Linked DNA regions of Homo sapiens: region 2 is linked to region 1. Evidence: fine-mapped expression QTL. A gene starts in region 1. The other region holds a variant in brackets. All regions are shown on one strand. Distances are between the middles of the regions.

Region 1 (9,699 bases):
TGGCTCACACCTATAATCCTAGCACTTTGGGAGGCTAAGGCAGGAGGATTGCTTGAGGCCAAGAGTTCAAAACAAGCCTGGGCAACATTGCAAGACCCCAACTCTACAAAAAACGAAAAATTAGCCGGGAGCGGTGATGTGTGCCTGTAGTCCCAGCTACTCAGGAGACTGAGGTGGGAGAATCACTTGAGCCTGGGAGGTTGAGGCTGCAGTGAGCTGTGTTTATACCACTGCACTCCAGCCTGCTGGGTAACAGAGCAAGACTCCATCTCAAAAAGAAAAGAAAAAATGCTTTGCTACATAATGAGGCCAGGCAAAAAAAAAAAAGTCCTGTGGAAATCATATAGACAAACATTTGCAAAGCTGCTACTGCCATTGTACCAGTGTTAAACTGTGTTCTACCTTGCATCTTTTACTGATTTTTATGACAGATTTTATATTGTAACCATTCGAGAACTCTGTAAGTGCTATGGCTTCCTTAAACTACGATTTATCATATGCTCCCGGTGTTTACTTTGAGACTGAATGGCAACCAGAGAATGTAAACAACCAAGGTGCATCTGGTTATGTTTTAAAATAAAGATTAATAAAAGTTTTGGTTTTTCTCTTTCTAACCTTCTTTTTAAACTAGAAATATAATACCTATAGAAAAGTAAATGTTGGCCGGGTGCGGTGGCTCATGCCTATAATCCCAGCACTTTGGGAGGCCGAGGCAGGCAGATCACCTGAGGTCAAGAGTTCGAGACCAGTCTGGCCAACATGGTGAAACCCTGTCTCTACTAAAAATACAAAAATTAGCCGGGCATAGTGGCAGACACCTGTAATCCCAGCTACTGGGAAGGCTGAGCCAGAATGGCTTGAACCTGGGAGGCAGAGGTTGCAGTGAGCCGAGATCGCCCCATTGCACTCCAGCTTGAGCAACAAGAGCGAAACTGTCTCAAAAAAAAAAAAAAAGTATATGTTAAGTATAGAAAAATATATAAATTAAAAAATTATAGGCTTGGGGGCCAGGCACAGTGGCTCACACCTGTAATCCCAGCACTTTGGGAGGCCGAGGTGGGTGTATCACTTGAGGTCAGGAGTTTGAGACCAGCCTGGCCAACATGGTGAAACCCCGTCTCTACCAAAAAAAATATATAAAAATTATCTGGGTGTGGTGGCATGTGCCTATAGTCTCAGCTTCTCAGAAGACTGAGGCGTGAGAATCACTTGAACGATGGAAGTGGAGGTTGCAGTGAGCTGAGATCACACTACTGCACTACAGTCTGGGCAACAGAGTGAGACCTTGTCTCAAAAAAAAAAGAAAGAAAAAGAAAAATGCTTTATGGCCCAGTGCAGTGGCTCACACCTATAATCCTAGCACTTTGGGAGGCTAAGGCAGGAGGTTCGCTTGAGGCCAAGAGTTCAAAACAAGCCTGGGCAACACTGCAAGACCCCAACTCTACAAAAAACGAAAAATTAGCCGGGAGCGGTGATGTGTGCCTGTAGTCCCAGCTACTCAGGAGACTGAGGTGGAAGAATCACTTGAGCCCGGGAGGTTGAGGCTGCAGTGAGCTGTGTTTATACCACTGCACTCCAGCCTGCTGGGTAACAGAGCAAGACTCCATCTCAAAAAGAAAAGAAAAAATGCTTTGCTACATAATGAGGCCAGGCAAAAAAAAAAAGTCCTGTGGAAATCATATAGACAAACATTTGCAAAGCTGCTACTGCCATTGTACCAGTGTTAAAATGTGTTCTACCTTGCATCTTTTACTGATTTTTATGACAGATTTTATATTGTAACCATTTGAGAACTCTGTAAGTGCTATGGCTTCCTTAAACTACGATTTATCATATGCTCCCAGTGTTTACTTTGAGACTGAATGGCAACCAGAGAATGTAAACAACCAAGGTGCATCTGGTTATGTTTTAAAATAAAGATTAATAAAAGTTTTGGTTTTTCTCTTTCTAACCTTCTTTTTAAACTAGAAATATAATACCTATAGAAAAGTAAATGTTGGCCGGGTGCGGTGGCTCATGCCTATAATCCCAGCACTTTGGGAGGCCGAGGCAGGCAGATCACCTGAGGTCAAGAGTTCGAGACCAGTCTGGCCAACATGGTGAAACCCTGTCTCTACTAAAAATACAAAAATTAGCCGGGCATAGTGGCAGACACCTGTAATCCCAGCTACTGGGAAGGCTGAGCCAGAATGGCTTGAACCTGGGAGGCAAAGGTTGCAGTGAGCCGAGATCGCCCCATTGTACTCCAGCTTGAGCAACAAGAGCGAAACTGTCTCAAAAAAAAAAAAAGTATATGTTAAGTATAGAAAAATATATAAATTAAAAAATTATAGGCTTGGGGGCCAGGCACAGTGGCTCACACCTGTAATCCCAGCACTTTGGGAGGCTGAGGTGGGAGGATCACTTGAGGCCAAGAGTTTGAAACCAGTATGGGCAACATTGCAAGACCCTGTCTCTACAAAAAACAAAAAATTAGCCGGGCATGGTGGCATGTGCCTGTAGTCCCAGCTACTCGGGAGACTGAGGTGGGAGAATCACTTGAGTCCAGGAGGTTGAGGCTCCAGCGAGCAGTGTTCATACCACCTGCACTCCAGCCTGCTGGGTGACAGAGCAAGATGCTGTCTCAAAAAAAAAAAAAAAAAAAAAAGAAAGAAAAAAGAAAAATGCTTTGCTATATAACGAAGCCAGGCAGGAAAAAAAAGTCCATATAGATAAACATTTGCAAAGCTGCTACTGCCATTGTACAGTGTTAAAATGTGTTCTACCTTGCATCTTTAAATAAAGATTAATAAAAGTTTTGGTTTTTCCCTTTTTAACCTTTTTTTTTAACTAGAAATAATAATACCTATAGAAAAGTATATATTGGCCGGGCGCAGTGGCTCACGCCTGTAATCCCAGCACTTTGGGAGCCCAAGGCAGGTGGATCATGAGGTCAGAAGATCAAGACCATCCTGGCTAACACGGTGAAACCTGGTCTCTACTAAAAATACAAAAAATTAGCCGGGCGTGGTGGCAGGCGCCTGTAGTCCCAGCTACTTGGGAGGCTGAGGCAGGAGAATGGCATGAACCCGGGAGGCAGAGCTTGCAGGGAGCTGAGATCACGCCACTGCACTCCAGCCTGGGCAACAGAGTGAGACTCTGTCTCAAAAAAACAAAAAAGTATATAGTAAGTATAGAAAATATATGAATTAAAAAATCAATGCCGAGCGTGATGGCTCAAACCTATAATCCCAGCACTTTGGGAGGCCGGGGTGGGCAGATCACCTGGGGTTGGAAGTTCGAGACCAGCCTGGCTAACGTGGGGAAACCCCATCTCTACTAAAAATACAAGTTTAGGTGGGCGTGGTGGTACGTGCTTGTAATCCCAGCTACTTGGGAGGCTGAGGCAGAAGAATTGCTTGAGGAGACGGAGACAGGGAATAGGAGATGGAGGTTGCCGTGATCCCAGATAGCACCACTGCACTTCAGCCTGGGTGACAGAGTGAGACTCTGTCTCACAAAAAAAAAAAAAAAAAATTTTAGGCCGGAGGCGAGGTGTGGTGGCTGACACCTGTAATCCCAGCACTTTGGGAGGCCGAGGTGGGTGGATGATGTGAGGTCGGGAGTTCGAGACCAGCCTGGCCAACATGGTGAAACACCATCTCTACTAAAAATACAAAAATTAGCCGCCCATGGTGGTGCACCTGTAATCCCAGCTCCTTGGGAGGCTGAGGCAGTAGAATCACTTGAACCTGGGAGGTGGAGTTTGCAGTGAGCTTAGATTGCACCACTGTACTCCACTCTGGGCAACAGAGCAAGACTCTGTCTCAAAATATATATAATATATATTATTATGTATATATATAATATATATTATTATGTATATGTGTAATATATATTATTATGTATATATATAATATATATATTATATCATAATCCCTTCCCTCACTAAGTAATCACTGACCTACTTGGTACAATAAATATTTCCTTGCTTTTAGTAAGAACACACCCCTAAATGCAATGGTTTATTTTGCTTGCTTTTGAACTCTATAGAAATAAAATCAGGCCTGGCGCAGTGGCTCTCGCCTGTAATCCCACCACTTTGGGAGGCCGAGGCGGGCAGATCATGAGATCAGGAGATTGAGACTATCCTGGCCAACATGGTGAAATCCTGTCTCTATTAAAAATACAAAAGTTAGCTGGGTGTGGTCTCACGCACCTGTAATCCCAGCTACTTGGGAGGCTGAGGCAAGAGAATCACTTGCACCGGGGAGCCGGAGGTTGCAGTGAGTCGAGATCGCGCCACTGAACTCTAGCCTGGCCACAGAGCAAGACTGCATCTCCAAAAAAAAAAAAAAAAAAAAAAAAAAATAGAATTATAGGGTATATACACTTTTGTTTCTGATTTCTTTCAATCAACATTTATTTTAAAGATTCAGTCATGTTATTGTATAGTGCTATAGATAATTTTTTTAGATTCAAAGATTTTTATTTTTTACAAAACCCCAGAATAATAAACGTTATAATTATACATTTAAATCTGGTTGTAAGTTTTATCCTGGCAGCTATTTGTCAATATGCCTTCTAGTTAGAGAGGTTCTGCAAGTTATAATTTACATACAAAGATATTTCGCAATTTTTTTTTTTTTTGAGACGGAGTCTCACTCTGTCGCCCAGGCTGGAGTGCAGCGGGGTGATCTCGGCTCACTGCAACCTCCACCTCCTGGTTCGAGCAATTCTCCTGCCTCAGCCTCCTGAGCAGCTGGAACTACAGGTATGCGCCACCACGCCTAATTTTTGCTTTTTTTTTTTTTTTTTTTTTTTTTTTTAGACGGTTTTCGCTCTTGTTGCCCAGGCTGGAGTGCAATGGTGTGATCTCGGTTCACTGCAACTTCCGCCTCCCGGGTTCAAGCGATTGTCCTGCCTCAGCCTCCCGAGTAGCTGGGATTACAGGCGCCCGCCACCACGCCCGGCTAATTTTCGTATTTTTAGTAGAGATGGGGTTTCACCATGTTGGCCAGCCTGGTCTCGAACTCCTGACTTCAGGTGATCCGCCCGCCTTGGCCTCCCAAAGTGCTAGGATTACAGGCGTGAGCCACCGCAGTAGTCCCAGTTTTGTTTTGTTTTTTTGTTTTTTGTTTTTGATATCTCAATTCCTACAGTTGAGGAAACAAACTAGGAGAGGAGAAGAGGAGGCGGAACTCAAGTGACGGGAAAGCAGGAACTGAAGAAGCGGAGGAAGGATTTCAAAATTGGACGAAAGCCGGTCGGTTTTACTAACGGACCGGAAGGACTCTAGAGAACGCTCTGCACTATGGCTGGTCCCGTGAGCTTGCGAGACCTTCTAATGGGAGCATCAGCCTGGATGGGCTCTGAAAGTCCCGGAGGGTCCCCTACTGAGGGCGGAGGGAGCGCGGCTGGCGGACCGGAGCCTCCATGGCGGGAGGATGAGATCTGCGTTGTGGGAATCTTCGGCAAGACGGCTCTACGCCTGAATTCCGAGAAGTTCTCTCTTGTGAATACGGTGTGCGACCGACAGGTCTTTCCTCTCTTTCGCCACCAAGATCCTGGGGATCCAGGACCTGGAATCAGAACTGAGGCTGGCGCCGTGGGTGAGGCCGGTGGAGCCGAGGACCCTGGGGCTGCAGCCGGGGGTTCAGTTCGGGGAAGTGGAGCTGTCGCGGAAGGTAACCGAACTGAGGCAGGCTCCCAGGACTACAGCCTTCTGCAGGCCTACTACAGTCAGGAAAGCAAAGTTCTGTATCTTCTCCTCACCTCCATCTGTGACAATTCACAGCTTCTCCGGGCTTGTCGGGCTCTTCAGAGCGGGGAAGCTGGAGGTGGACTCTCTTTACCTCATGCAGAAGCACACGAGTTCTGGAAGCATCAAGAGAAGCTGCAGTGCCTCAGTCTCCTTTACCTATTCTCTGTCTGTCATATCTTGCTTCTGGTCCATCCCACTTGTTCCTTTGATATCACTTATGATCGAGTATTCAGAGCCCTGGATGGGCTGAGACAGAAGGTCCTGCCGCTCCTTAAAACAGCCATTAAGGATTGTCCAGTTGGCAAAGACTGGAAGCTAAACTGCCGACCTTGCCCACCTAGACTCCTTTTCCTCTTTCAACTCAATGGAGCCCTCAAGGTAGAACCTCCTCGGAACCAAGACCCAGCTCATCCAGACAAGCCCAAGAAACATTCTCCCAAAAGGAGGCTGCAGCATGCCCTGGAGGACCAGATCTATAGAATCTTCCGGAAGAGTCGTGTCTTGACTAATCAGAGCATCAACTGCCTCTTTACTGTGCCTGCCAACCAAGCTTTCGTGTACATAGTACCGGGAAGCCAGGAGGAGGACCCAGTAGGTATGTTGCTGGACCAACTTAGGAGTCATTGTACTGTGAAGGACCCGGAATCTTTGCTGGTGCCTGCACCCCTTTCTGGGCCTAGGCGATACCAGGTGATGAGGCAGCACAGCCGACAACAACTTTCCTTTCACATTGACAGCAGCAGTTCCAGTTCTTCAGGCCAGCTAGTGGATTTCACTCTTCGGGAATTCCTATGGCAGCATGTGGAGCTAGTTCTAAGCAAGAAAGGTTTCGATGACAGTGTGGGCAGGAACCCACAGCCTTCCCATTTTGAACTTCCTACTTATCAGAAGTGGATCTCAGCAGCTTCAAAACTGTATGAGGTGGCTATTGATGGGAAAGAAGAGGACTTGGGGTCACCCACTGGAGAGCTAACATCTAAGATTTTAAGCAGTATTAAAGTCTTGGAAGGATTTTTGGATATTGACACAAAATTCTCAGAAAACCGATGCCAAAAAGCTTTACCCATGGCCCACAGTGCCTACCAGTCAAATTTGCCTCATAATTACACAATGACTGTCCATAAGAATCAGCTTGCCCAGGCTCTTCGAGTGTACAGTCAACATGCTAGAGGTCCAGCATTTCACAAATACGCCATGCAGTTACATGAGGACTGCTACAAATTTTGGAGCAATGGCCATCAGCTCTGTGAGGAGAGGAGTTTAACTGATCAACACTGTGTGCACAAATTTCACTCATTACCTAAATCAGGTAGCTAAAATTTGTTCAGCATTTTGAAATAAAAACTTTGAGCTGTGTTTTCATTCTTGTTTTAAGATAGTCTGTTCACTATGTATTGATATTTTAGAAAGAGCCCTACAGAAATTTAGGTGCATCAGCTATACGTTTTCTCTCCTGCTGTAAAAGGAAAATATCAGCTATGACTACTTTCTTATTTTTTTTCATTTAAAGGATACGTCCTAGTGAATTGGTAAGTGAGAATTATTAAGTAGTATAAAATTTCAGACATCTCATATTAACACTTTGCCTTGGAGGATTTGTAGAACTAAAATGAATGTTATGTTAGATGATGGTACATGATAATGGTAGCAGGAGGAAAAATTCACTTAAAAACTCTAAACTTTACATTTATAATATAAAGTATTTTATATACTTTCACTTGCTTCTTCTGTTATGTGTATTTAGGTAAGGTTTTTGTTTGTGGGGTTAGATGTTGTAGAATGCAAAGTAAATTCGCACATTGTGTTTATGAAATTAATAGTGGCTGTTATATTTTCCAGGAGAAAAACCAGAGGCTGATAGAAATCCGCCTGTGCTATATCACAATAGCCGAGCTCGATCTACTGGTGCTTGCAACTGTGGAAGGAAACAAGCACCTCGAGATGATCCCTTTGATATCAAAGCAGCCAATTATGACTTCTATCAGGTAGACTCTGAATTTTTTCTTCTTCCTCTTCTGTCTTTTTTTGTTAAATATCATCTGAGTAAAAACATATTTTCAATAGCAGAGTAAGTAGAAAAGCAAATGCAACTGCAGTATAATATATAAACAGGAGCAAATTCTTTATGTGTACATATTTACTTACACATCAATTATTGATCTTGTTAGAATGAAGAATATTATTTAAAATGAAAAACTTACTGGATTTTTTTTCTTACCCTCTATAGCTTCTGGAAGAAAAGTGTTGTGGAAAATTGGATCATATCAATTTCCCAGTATTTGAACCAAGTACTCCAGATCCTGCTCCTGCTAAAAATGAATCCTCTCCTGCTCCTCCAGATTCGGATGCTGATAAACTTAAAGAAAAAGAACCTCAAACCCAAGGAGAGAGCACGAGCCTGAGTTTAGCTTTGAGTTTGGGCCAATCCACAGATAGCTTAGGTACCTATCCAGCTGATCCACAAGCAGGAGGAGATAATCCAGAAGTTCATGGTCAAGTAGAAGTGAAAACTGAGAAGAGGCCAAACTTCGTTGATCGACAGGCATCCACAGTTGAGTATCTCCCAGGCATGCTACATTCAAATTGCCCTAAAGGTCTCCTACCCAAATTCTCCAGCTGGTCTTTGGTTAAACTAGGCCCTGCTAAGTCTTATAACTTTCATACAGGTTTGGACCAACAGGGCTTTATTCCAGGAACAAATTATCTTATGCCTTGGGACATTGTCATCAGGACTAGAGCTGAAGATGAAGGAGACTTAGACACAAACTCTTGGCCTGCTCCAAATAAAGCTATTCCTGGAAAGAGAAGTGCGGTTGTAATGGGAAGAGGAAGACGGCGAGATGACATAGCTCGAGCTTTTGTGGGCTTTGAATATGAAGACTCTCGAGGTCGGAGATTCATGTGCTCTGGGCCTGACAAAGTAATGAAAGTAATGGGAAGTGGGCCAAAGGAATCAGCTTTAAAAGCCCTAAATAGTGACATGCCCTTATATATTCTGTCATCCTCTCAAGGTAGAGGGCTGAAACCTCATTATGCTCAACTTATGAGGCTTTTTGTTGTGGTTCCTGATGCTCCTTTGCAGATAATACTAATGCCTCAGGTAAGAAATATAACCCTCTGCAGCCCCAAACAAGTAAAAAATGCTGATGTTTGTTTTGATTGATTTTAAAAAGTACAAGTTAGCCTCAAAACTAATTATTTCAGGCTGAGGGCAGTGGCTCATGCTTGTAATCCCAGAACTTTGGGAGGCCAAGGTGGGAGGATTGCTTGAGCCCAGGAGTTTAAGACCAGCCTGAGCAACATAGTGAGACTTGTATCTCTACAAAAAATTAAATTAAAAAACGAATTATTTAATTAAACAGGTCTTAAATTTAAATACCTTCCATACCTAATATTCTGTTTTTTAAAAAATACATTGTGGGTATTTTAATCCGTTCATGCTATCAATTCACATCATTTCATTCAAAGGCAGAACTTGAAGTTAAAATTCTGGAGAAAAGGCCGGGTACAGTGAGTCACGCCTGTATTTCCAGCACTTTGGGAGGCCAAGGCAGGCGGATCACCTGAAGTCAGGAGTTCGAGACAAGCCTGGGCAACATGGCGAAACCCCGTCTCTACTAAAAATACAAAAAATTAGCCAGGCGTGGTGGAAGGCGCCTGTAATCCCAGCTACTTGGGAGGCTGAGGCAGGAGAATCACTTGAATCAACCTGTAAGCGGAGGTTGCAGTGAGCCGAGATCGCGCCATTGCACTCCAGCCTGGGTGACTAAGAAAGACTCCATTCCCCCTGCAAAAAAAAAAGTTCTGGGGAAAAGCAGAATAATATTTGAGACTAAATAATATACTATTGGATACAATTAGAGTTAGGAGTGTACCCATATCTGCTTAATCTTATATATTCTTTTATTTATTTATTTGTTTGTTTTTTTGAGACAGTCTCGCTCTGTTGCACAGGC
Region 2 (12,033 bases), 30 kb before region 1:
ATCTGCACAAATGGCTCCTCTCCTCCTTCCTGGTGTCTGTCATTAGCAATGGAATAAAGTTCCTGCTGAAAATTCACATCTCCCCTGGATCCGGTGTTCTGGAAGTGAGAGAGAGGATGTCATACTTAAAGGAGGCGGCTCTCTAGACAGGAAGGTTATTCACGTCCCACATCAAGTCTAACTAGAGTTCAGAGCAGTTGAGAAATCAAATTTTATCTCCTGTCCTTCATTCTATAGCCTGCTTCTGAACCATCGTGTTCAGCTGTGAAACTCACAGTTTGGTAACCCTGACTCCAAAACTCACTCAATATACCCAAGGTCAGCCCCAGTGATCTGCTTCATAGCAAGGACTTTGGGTGGGTCTGCCCAGGGAGTAGGGCACCCTCAAAGAATGTGGCTTTGGACTTCATCACAACTGGGGCCTTTTGCATTACTTAAGAGCTAAACTCGTAACCATGCTAGATCCGTTTCTAATGTGACAACATCACAAACCCTGAGTCCAGAAGCCTAATCCATAATCCTACCTCCTCATGATGAAGTCTCATGCTCTGTGCTGAACGTGGTTAGCTGCACAAGATGTGAACCAAAGCTTCACTGAACCCTCGACCCAAATCGGTAACTCAAGTGTGTCAATCATAATGAACCTCCCCGAACTCAGTATTTATGATTATTTTTGAGTCAGGGTCTCACTCTGTTGCTCGGGCTGGAGTGCAGTGGCAGGATCAGGGCTCCCTGCAGCCCCAACCTCCCAGGCTCCAGTGATCCTCCCACATCACCTGGCTAATTTTTGTATTTTTATGGAGAGGGGATCTCGCCATGTTGCCCAGGCTCGAAGCCGGATCAAGCAATTGGGTTCCTCGGATTTCCAAAATAGACCCCAATATTCTGCCTTTACCCCAGAGGACACAGATGTACCTTCCCTCAGGCTGATGACCTCAGGCCTCACAGTCCCTGGAGCTCTAGGAAACGCGGTGCGATCTCGTGCCCACACCCAGTGCTCTGGGTTATAAGCCTGGATCTGGAAAAACAAACGCCCCTTAAGAAGATGGGGACTCCCCAGGATACCCCTCCCTCCCCTTGTCCAGCCTCCAGCCCACCTGATTCCTCCCCACCTCCTCCACCTACCCCCACCCCGCCTACCTCCTCCAACTACTCCAGGGAAACCCAAGCCCTCCAGCGCATGGAACGGAAGAACTGGAACCGAAGTTTATGGAACAAGGGTATCTGGGAGTGGTTCTTCCCGTACAGGAAGTAGAAAATGTTTCATTTGGAGGCCTCGTTGTCCTCCTCCATGTCATTGGCCAGGTAGCTGGGGACAGAAATCAGGTTGCCGCTCAGGGACACCACCAGGAGAGACCTCTGGCTGAGGTCAGCTTCCCAGAGAGGAGGGCAGGGGACGATCCTCAGCTCAGGACTGGCACCCACCCTGCAGAACCATGCCTTCCTCAGGAGGGCCCTGATTGTCAGAGACCTGCTGAAGGGCGTCTCCCACTCCTTCAGGATGAAGACAAAAACCCAACTGGTGGCCGAGAGTGGTGGCTTACGCCTGGAATCCCAGCACATTGGGAGGCTGAGGCAGGAGGATCATTTGAGGCCAGGAGTTTGAGATGAGCCTGGGCAACATAGCAAGACCCTCGTCTCTATAAAAAATGTAAAAGACACGCCAGACGTGGTGGCTCATGCCTGTAATCCCAGCAATTTGGGAGGCTGAAGCAGGTGGGTCGCTTGAGGCCAGGAGTTCGAGACCAGCCCCATATCTACTAAAGATACAAAAATCAGCCTGGTGTGGTGGCACACCTCTTAGTCCTAGCTACGCAAGAGGCTGAGGCACAAGAATTACATGAACCCAGGAGGAGGAGGTTGCAGTGAGCCGAGATTGGGCCACTCCATTCCAGCCTCAGAGGCAGAACAAGACTCTGTCTCAATAAATAAATAAATAACTGTCCAGGTGTGGTGTCACAGCCCTGTAGTCAAAGCTAATCCGGAGGCTGAGGTGGGAGGATCACTGGAGTACAGGATATGGAGGCTGCAGTGAGCTATGATCTCACCACTGCACTCCAGCTTGGGGGACAGGGCAAGTCTGTCTCAAAAAAATAAAAGAAATTGAATACATTGATATTGTGCCAAGACCCTGCCTTCTACAGGCATCTAGTCTAATGGGACTGGGAGTAATCAGGGCAGATGACGTAATCCCAATATCACATTATAATAGGATGTAACTGGAGAGCTACAAGCATGTAAAAGTTGCAAGATGAGGGAAGGCATCACAGAGGCTATGGGGTGAACTGACTTTAAGGAATGGGTCCTTCCCTTCAGAACCACATGTGTGCGGGACACCCAGACAGAAAACACAAACGCAAAGTCGAGTGGAGGGCATTTGGAAAGAGCGGTGAAGCCACACCAGGAAACACCAAGATGGCGAGCCAGTTTGGTTGTAGAGATTATAGAGAGGGTGGAATTTGCACTGTGGACCCTGGCCTCAATTTAGAAAGACATCAGCTAAGGAAGTTGTTCAGGTGGGCAGTGAGGGTGTTGTGCTTTGGAAAGACGCTCAGGCTGCACTAGGAAGCCCCCAGGCTTGGGGAGAGACTCCAGGAGGCCCCAGCAGGGAGCATTTGACAGTGGATTCGAGTGATGCAAGGGGGACCTGAACTGTTGCCTCTGTCATGGGAACCCGGAGGAGGTCGATGGCGTTTGCAGTTGATATGGGAAGGAGAGAGACAGAAGAACCAGAAATGTCTGCTTGCTGGGGGAAGCATCGTGTCCGCTCCTTTGCTCCTTTTCTTCTCCCCTTAGGAGCGGTTTATGGTTCCTTTTGTTTTATTCTTTTATTTGTACACTGGCGTTGGAATTTGGTTTTTTTGGCTTTTTTTTTTTTTTTTTTTTTTTTTTTTTTGAGAAAAAGTCTCGCTCTGTTGCCCAGGCTGGAATGCAGTGGCTCAAACTTAGCTTACTGCAATGTCTGCCTCCTGGGTTCAACGGGTTCTCTTGCCTGAGCCTCCCGAGTAGTTTGGATTACAGGTGCACACCACCATGCCTGGCTAATTTTTCTATTTTTAGTAGAGATGGGGTTTTGCCATGTTAGTCAGGCTGGTCTCAAACTCCTGACCTCAAGTGATCTGCTTGCCTCGGCCTCCCGAAGTGCTGGGATTATAGGCGTGAGCCACCGCGCCCAGCCTGAGTTTCTTTTTAGAAACAGCAGTCTAAAAACAAGATAGTATAATCCTCTTTTTTGTACACAGAGTAAAGAGGACAAATAGGTGCAAGAATAAATGAAAGGCTGGAATCCCACTTCCCCCGCTGTCCCAGGGTATTGGATATTGACAGATAGGAGGAAGCAAACCACTCACAGAGCCAGGAATAAATGAATGCATTGGTATTGCCGGGAGAAGAGGCCGGCGCGGCTAAAATATGCTATGACCATAGCCAGGAGATACTGGTGGAGAGAAAGGAACACAGAAAGGGAGAGGTCACATCTTGGGAGAGGAAGATCGTGGAGACAGTGGAATGGGGGTCTAGGGAGGGTTTGCCCATCAGAGAAGGGACCTGAGTGTTGGGGTGACTGTGCTCATGTGGAAATTGCGGGGTGGTGGGGTATTTGAAGGTCGGATGCAAATCCGAGAAGCTGGAGGAAGGCATGTTGGTGATGCTCCCAGGATGGTGGGCTCTGATGAGATCTTTGAAGGAGTGTGTCTAGGTCGGCTGGTATCAGGAGGGTCTTTTGTGTGCCAGGCAGAGAACTGTCCCAAAGAACTGAGAGTAAAGGGGCTAGGAGCTTCAGGGCTGCGGCCTGACTGTGGCCCAGAGCTCAGATCCCAAATGACCCATAGGAGAGGCAGGGGCCACTCATTCACTCAGCAAGAGACCAGCAGAGTCCTGAGGGAGATGCTGACAAATAATAAAAAGACCAAGAATAGCCGGGAGTGGCAGCTCAAGCCTGTGATCCCAGAAGTTTGAGAGGCTGAGACAGGAGGATCAAGTGAGTCCAACAGTTCTAGAACAACCTGGGCAACATAGCAAGACTGTTTGTATAAAAATTATTCGAGCATGATGGCATGTGCCTGTACTCCCAACTGCTCAGGAGGCTGAGGCAGGATTGCAAGAGCCCAGGAATTAGAGGCTGTGGTGAGCTGTGATCATGCCACTGCACTCCATCCTGTGGAACACAGCTAGATACTGTCTCGAAAAAAAAAAAAAAACAGGTGGGCACCAAGACTCAAGACTGTGGGAGCCAGAGGGGCACAGTGGCTCACATCTGTAATCCCAGCATTTTGGGAGGCCAAGGCAAGCGGAACACCTGAGGTCAGGTGTTCAAGACCAGCCAGGTCAACATGGCAAAACCCCATCTCTACTAAAAACACAAAAATTAGCCAGCCATGGTGGTGCATGCCTGTAATCCCAGCTGCTTGGGAGGCTGAGGCAGGAGAATGCCTTGAACCCAGGAGGCTTCAGCTGCAGTGAGCCAAGGTTGAGACACTGCCCTCCAGCCTGGGCAACAGAGCGAGACTGTCTCACAAAAAGAAAAGAAGACTGTGGGAGCATCTGGTGGGAAGTGCTGGAGGGAGAGAAGAGAGGAACTGTGGGTTTAGAAGCTGCACCCTCCCCCTGGCAGTGCACTGAAGCAGGAACACGGTTCCGTGGAGAACAAACTTACCTTGTCTGACAACCTCAAATCTTTGTCCCAGGCGAGGAAGCTTTTAATGACAGGATCCTCTGTGATTAGAGAGTAGATGTCAGCTTGAAAAGCAGGACAGGGTTTCCGTGGGAGCAGCAGGGCAGCAAGGAGAAGTGTGTCTCCCAGGGGGAAGTCTCAGGATTGCTGCCACAGGTGAGGTGGATGGGAAAGAGGAGAATGACTTTCACTGGGCAAGGGAGAGAGGCTCCCGCTCTGAGACTCCCCTGAGAAGAGGCTGAAGGAGGCCCTGGGTGTGAGAATCTACAGGATGTAGAGCTGGCAAAAAGCCAGAATGCCCTCCCAGCAGACACAGAGGGACCACTGCAGAGTCATAAAGGAATTCCCATCATTTCCTCATGAGACAGTCACATCAGGGTGTGACTATGGCCTAGGTATCCCCCTCTATGGATGGAGACACTTAGGTTTAGAAAAGTCAGCAAGAGACATTAAGTTTCAGAGGGCACAGCTGAAGCCGCTTTCTTTGATTTTTTATTGTGATTTATTGATTTATTTATTTATTTATTGAGATGGAGTCTCGCTCTGTGGGCCGGGCTGGAATGCAGTGGCATGATCTCAGCTCACTGCAACCTCGGCCTCCCGAGTTCAAGCGATTCTCCTGTCTCAGTCCCCTGAGTAGCTGGGATTACAGGCGTGTGCTACCACGCCTGGCTAATTTTTGTATTTTTAGTAGAGATCAGATTTTACTATGTTGGTCAGGCTGGTCTCTAACTCCTGACCTGCCTCGGCCTCCCAAAGTGCTGGGATTACAGGTTTGAGCTACTGTGCTTTTTCTTTTGAGACAGAGTTTTGCTCTGTCACCCCGGCTGGAGTGCAGTGGTGCCATCATAGCTCACTGCAGCCTCAAAGTCCTGAGTTCAAGCAATCCTCTTAACTCAGCCTGCCAACATGCTGGGATCTCAGACGTGAGCCACCGCACTTGGCCCAAAACCAAGCTTTCTTATCCCAATTGCCAACCTAATCCTAATCTTCTATCATCTCCTAAGTGTCCCTCATGAGTGATCACTTCTGAGTCCTCCCGCATGGAGAGCTCACCCACTGGGGGCATATTTTTCCCATTGGAAAAGTGTGGTTATTGGAAGTTTCCTCTTTTTTAAAAGAACAGGATTGGAGGTGCTCTCTGGGGTGTCCTCCTACCAAGCAGCCTGTTGAAAGTCTCGTGGTGCTCAGGGAGCACGGGTGACACTCGCCATTGCTTCAGCTTCATCTTGAGCCCACACAGCGTCTCCGCCACCCAGGTCTCCTCAGGCTCAGGGGCGAGCTCCTTCTCTGGCTCCTCCTCCGATGACTCCTCAGATTCGTCCGACCACTCCCTCTTCCTTTTCCAGCAAAGGGACCCACACAGGGGGCTGGGATCTACCCCAGGGGCTGAGTAAAGAAACCAGGCCACTGTATAATGCTTCTGCAATTGAACTCCTTAGAGCCAGACCCAAAACGCCAAACCACTCTCCATCCTCCCCAGCCTCGCAGACTGCTGGCTTCTCCAAGCCATCTTTCCGTCTTTCTCCTTTGCTGAACCCCATGAGCCGCTCCTTCCCCTCCCCATTCTTCCATCTCTCTGTCCTCAGAACACTTCCTCATTTCCTTCCCTCATCCCTAGTTCTCTGAGTCTCTCCTTTTTTTTTTTTTTTTTTTTTGACACAGAGTCTTGCTTTGTCGCCCAGGCTGGAGTGTAGTAGTGCAATCT[C/T]GGCTCACTGCAATCTCCGTCTCCCAGGTTCCAGTGATTCTCCTGCCTCAGCCTCCCAAGTAGCTGGGATTACAGGTGCCCGTAATAACGCCCAGCTCATTTTTGTTCTTTTAGTAGGGATGGGGTTTCACCATGTTGGCCAGGCTGGTCTCAAACTCCTGGCCTCAAGTGATCCGCCTGCCTTGGCCTCCCGAAGTGCTGGGATTACAGGTGTGAGCCACTGCACCCTGCCTCAGTCCCTCCATTCTTCCCACACACCTCCTCAGGTGCTCCTTCCTGACTTCTGGGCCCGTCCTTGTTTTTTTTTTTTTGTTTTTTTTGTTTTTTTTGCCACAGGGTCTCAGTCTCTCAGACTGGAGTGCAGTGGTGCTATCTCGGCTCAAAGCAACCTCTGCCTCCCGGGTTCTAGAGATTCTCCTGTCTCAGCCTCCCAAGTAGCTGGGAATACAGGCGTGCGCCACCACACCCGGCTAAGTTTTGTATTTTTAGTATTGACTAGGTTTCACTATATTGGTCAGGCTGGTCTCGAACAACTGACCTCAGGTGATCCACCCGCCTCAGCCTCCCAAAGTGCTGGGATTACAGACATGAGCTACTGCGCCCGGCCTTTGGTTTTCTTTTGAAACAGGGTTTTGTTCTGTCATGCAGGCTGGAGTGCAGTCGTGCAGTCATAGCTCACTGCAGCCTCAAAGTCCTGAGTTCAAGCAATTCTCTTGCCTCAGCCTCCCAGTGTGCTGGGATCTCAGGCATCAGCCACAGCACCTGTCCCGAAACCAAACTTTCTTTTTTTGTTGTTTTTTTGTTTTTTTGAGACAGAGTCTCTCTCTGTCACCCAGGCTGGAGTGTAGTGGCGCGATCTCAGCTCACTGCAAGCAACACCTCCGGGGTTCACGCCATTCTGCTGCCTCAGCCTCCCAAGTAGCTAGGACTACAGGCGCCCACCACCACGCCCAGCTAATTTTTTATATTTTTAGAAAGACTGTGTTTCACCATGTTAGCCAGGATGGTCTCGATCTCCTGACCTCGTAATCCGCCCGCCTCGGCCTCCGAAAGTGCTGGGATTACAGACGTGAGCCACAGCGCCCAGCCCAAAACCAAGCTTTCTTATCCCGAGAGCCAAACTTTATCAACTCCAGCCTAATCCTCTATCATCTCCTAAGCGTCCCTCATGAGTGATCACTTCTGAGTCCTCCCGCATGGAGAGCTCACCCACTGGGGGCATATTTTTCCCATTGGAAAAGTGTGGTTATTGAAAGTTTTCCTCGTTTTTAAAAGAACAGGATTGGAGGTGCTCTCTGGGGTGTCCTCCTACCAAGCAGCCTGTTGAAGTCCTCATGGTGCTCAGGGAGCACGAATGACACTAGCCGTTGCTTCAGCTTCAGCTTCATTTTGAGCCCACACAGCATCTCCGCCACCCAGGTCTCCTCAGGCTCAGGGGCGAGCTCCTTCTCTGGCGCCTCCTCCGATGACTCCTCAGATTGGTCCGACCACTCCCTCTTCCTTTTCCAGCAAAGGGACCTACATGGGAGGCTGGGATCTACCCCAGGGGCTGAGTAAAGAAACCAGGCCACCATGTAATGCTTCTGCAACTGATCACCTTAGACCCCGACCCCGACCCCAACCCCAAACCACTCTCCATCCTCCCCAGCCTTGCAGACTGTTGGCTTCTCCAAGCCATCTTTCTGGCTTTCTCCTCTGCTCAACCCCATGAGCCGCTCCTTCCCCTCCCCATTCTTCCGTATCTCTGTCCTCAGAACACTTCTTCATGTCCTTCCCTGGTCCCTGGCTCTCTGAGTCCCTCCTTTTTTGCTTGTTTTTTTGTTATTGGTTTTTTTTTTTTTTGTTTCGAGACAGAATCTTGCTTTGTCGCCCGGGCTGGAGTGTAGTGGTGCAATCTCAGTTCACTGCAACATCTGTCTCCCGGATTCCAGTTATTCTCATGCCTCAGCCTCTCAGGTAGCTGGGATTACAGGTATCTGCCATAATGCCCAGCTCAATTTTGTACTTTTAGTAGAGATGGGGTTTCACCATGTTGACCAGGCTGGTCTCAAACTCCTGGCCTCAAGTGATCTGCCCGCCTTGGCCTCCCAAAGTGCTGGGATTACAGGTGTGAGCCACTGCACCTGGCCTGAATTTCTCCATTCTTCCCATACACCCTCCTCAGGTTCTCCTTCCTGACCTCTGACCCTTCTTTTTTTTTTTTTTTTTTTTGAGACAGTGTCTCACTCTCTCACCCAGACTGGAGTGCGGTAGCACAATCTTGGCTCACTGCAACCTCTTCCTCCCAGGCTCAAGTGATTCTCCTGTCTCAGCCTCCCAAATAGCTGGGATTACAGGCGCGCACCACTACCACCTGGCTAATTTTTGTACTTTTAGTAGAGATGGGGTTTCACCATGTTGGCCAGGCTCGTCTTGAACTCCTGACCTCAGGTGATCCATCCGCCTCGGCCTCCCAAAGTGTTAGGGTTACAGGTGTGAGCCACTGCACCTGGCCCCCTTCCTTCACCTTAGTCAATCCTATCCCACCTCTTCTTCCTCCAGTCCCCTCACCTGATGGTCCCGACACTTCATCATCCACCACCTCCTGGAGGGGGTACCCTGAGGTGCTCAGCTGGGGGCTCTGCTCCTCATCCTGGGGGTGCGGTTGATGGCTGGTCATGATCTTTCCCAAAATCTATCCCAACCCACGGAACCTAGTCTCTGTTCTATCCAAGGCCTTCTTCTGGACTCTGCTAGGACCCAGAAGGTGTGTTATCAATTCTCGAGGCTGAGAGAAGTCAGGAGTGGAGAACAGCTCTGAGAAGATGCAGTTGTCCACTTGAGCTCCCAGATGCCCATGGAGTCCAGTCCTTCCAATCAGGAAGGTTGGAATCTCTGATGTCATTGGTCATTCCAACCTGGCAACCAGTTTGAAGAAAAACACATGTAACTGCCAGGCTGGTCTCTTGTCCTGGAGATCCTGGGTGAATGGTATCTCCTGCCACTGTCCCAACCTCAGACCACCATCCAAAAGCATCTTCAGGGTCTCCGCATCCATCTGTTCCCTGTCCCAGCAGAGGCTGTGTCTTCTCCACTCAAAGCCTGAAGCATTTTGGGGTCTCCTCTTCTCTGTACATGCCCATTTCAGAGTCCAGTCTGGTGGGAGAGGGAGGGTGGGAAAGAAAACTAGGGTAAGCAGAAACTATGAAACCTTACAAGTGTGAGATTATCATATACAAGAGATCCCAGGAACATTGACTTGATGAAAAAGTCACATCAGAGCACTCAATTTGGCAGAGCTTTTCTGCCGAATGTTTACTGACATTCACTGTCCGAGATTCTATACTGGGGGTACACGTGTCCTCTGCCGTAAGGCATCTTTGAGTCCAAGAGACATTTTGAGGCCTGAAAATCATAGGAAACTGCCCATGAGCTCACTCATATTTCCAATGGTGTCCCCAGTTTCAGGGAGTCCATGGATTACCTAAGGCCAGCCCCTCCAGTTCGGCTAAGAAACTCTAGTCTATATATTAAGTTTTGTATCATATGTATTGCTCTGAACTCAGAAATTTCCCTACCATTTATGGATTCTATGAATAAAATATCGCATGTACAAAAAGACTAAGTCGAAAAATCTCAGCTGTGCACAGTGGCTCATGTTTGTAATCCCAGCACTTTGGGTGGCCAAGGGAGGAAGATTGCCTGAGGCCAGCAGTTCAAGACCAGTGTAGGCAACATAGCATGACCCCATCTCTAAAAAAACAAAACCAAACCAAATTAGCCAGGTGTGGTGGCTGGCACCTTGTTCCAACTACTTGGGAGACTCATGCGACAGGAAGATCGCTTGAGCCCAGGACTTAGAAGCTGCAGTGAGCTATGATCTTGCCACCGCACTCCAGTCTAGGCAACACAGCAAGACGTTGTGTCAAAAAAAATTTTTTTGATAAAAAATAAAAGAGTTGGATGACATTCAGAGACCATCCAAAAAACCTGTCAGTTCCTGGCCGGGCTCAGTGGCTCACGCCTGTAATCCCAGCACTTTGGGAGGCCAAAGGAAGTGGATCACTTGAGGTCAGGAGTGTGAGACCAGCCTGGCCAACATGGTGAAACCCCGTCTCTACTAAAAATACAAAAAATTAGCCAGGCATGGTGGCGGGTGCCTGTAATCCCAGCTACTCAGGAGCGGGGACTGGAGAATCACTTGAACTCGGGGTGCGGAGGTTGCCGTGAGCCAAGATCGCACCATTGCTCTCCAGCCTGGGCAACAAGAGCAAAACTCCGTCTCAAAAAAATAAACAAAGAACCTGTGAGTGAGTTCCCATATGGCTTCCTAATGGGCTGTGGCTCTCCTAGGAGTCTCTTGCTCATGGGAAAGGCCCAAACTGAATGAGGAAGCAGATCCCATTGCTATGGAAGTCCCATTGGTAGGAAGCTCTGCTTTTCTGGAGTTCAAATTTCCATTCATGACGCTTTAAACCGCCAGAGCTGGGTGGGTCCTGACAAAACAGTTTGCTATCTCTCTCCTAGTTAACAGGCTTTCATATATTAGAAGATCAATGTTCTGACCCCATTAAAAGTTCTCTTTTGTGGAATGAAAAGCTCTGATTTAACCCATCTTCAAACCTGGTTTGCATATTCTTCTCTCTTCTGGCACACCACCATGCCTGATTAAGTTTTTTTTTTTTTTTTTTTTTTTTTTGGCAGGGACAGGGTTTTGCCATGTTGCCGAGGCTAGTCTTGAACTCCTGGTCTCAAGCAATCTCCTCACCTCAGCCTCCCAAAGTGCTAGCAGTAGAGGCATGAGCCACCACACCAGGCCAAGGCTATTATTCTGACTTAGGGGTTTTTTATTTGTTTCATTTTGTTTTTCCTACAGAGTCGGTATTTCTTCAATAGATATATCTCAAAGCAGAAGCTGGCTAACATCATCCTGGAACTTCAATTTTCCTAACATCAGAGATGCAATAAAACTTTGGACAAATAGAGTATGGTCTATATACAGCTGGTGCCAGAACTGCATAACCCAGGTATGGATGTGACATCCCTGTTTTCAGTGCTATAGTTTTTCTACACACTTGGTGTTTATATACATATGTGCTCAAGTCAGTCCAACCCTCAAGCTAAACTTAGATAAGATGAAATTATTGAGTCAAGTCTGCCTTTGCTTCTATAAAAACATACATCAAGTCACTTTCTGGTTCCTGTTTTCTTGTCCTTATCATATTACTCATAGGACTCAGAATTGTTTATTATTAATTTCAGAGTTTAGAAGTATTGAAAGACACCATCTTTCCATCTCGTATCTGCCACCGAGAACTTTACAGTGTAAAACAACAGTTTTGCATTTTGGAAAGTAAATTATGCAAGCTCCAGGAAGCACTGAAGGTTGGTATTGTCAAATAAAAAGCAAATCTGGAATTAGGTAAGGAGACACTTTTTTTGAAAAGACTATTGCAATAGGGAAAATGCTCAAGTCATAAGATTTATATCTCAAACATTAAGCGAAAAAGTTTTCTTTGTTAGCAAGGAATACAAAGGGTAGAACAAACTGGGTTATGGGGAAGTAAGATGAAGAGCTGGGATAATCTGATCAGATAGCTGATTGGATCAGGGAACATCTTTTCCTGAAGGTTCTTCAGCATACCAATGCTTGCTTAAGCCCAAGAATAGGTCA

The links.
Region 2: its variant is fine-mapped to the expression of SMG8 in whole blood (TOPMed, PIP 0.92).

The regions. Positions count from the first base shown.
Region 1 is chr17:59,204,759-59,214,457 of GRCh38, forward strand. It overlaps SMG8 (SMG8 nonsense mediated mRNA decay factor), which reads left to right and starts at 5,277. Exons shown (of 4, transcript NM_018149.7): 1 at 5,277-7,052; 2 at 7,583-7,728; 3 at 7,971-8,843. The coding sequence starts at 5,294. It overlaps PRR11 (proline rich 11), which reads left to right. Exons shown (of 10, transcript NM_018304.4): 10 at 1-1,951. RefSeq lists an enhancer at 5,086-5,155.
Region 2 is chr17:59,173,819-59,185,851 of GRCh38, forward strand. PRR11 (proline rich 11) reads left to right here. Exons shown (of 10, transcript NM_018304.4): 3 at 11,236-11,386; 4 at 11,622-11,744. It also overlaps the pseudogene SPDYE22P. Among named protein-coding and RNA genes, the nearest start is that of PRR11, 24 kb to the left of the region's middle. RefSeq lists an enhancer at 8,560-9,061. The variant C/T (reference allele first, on the strand shown) is at 6,381.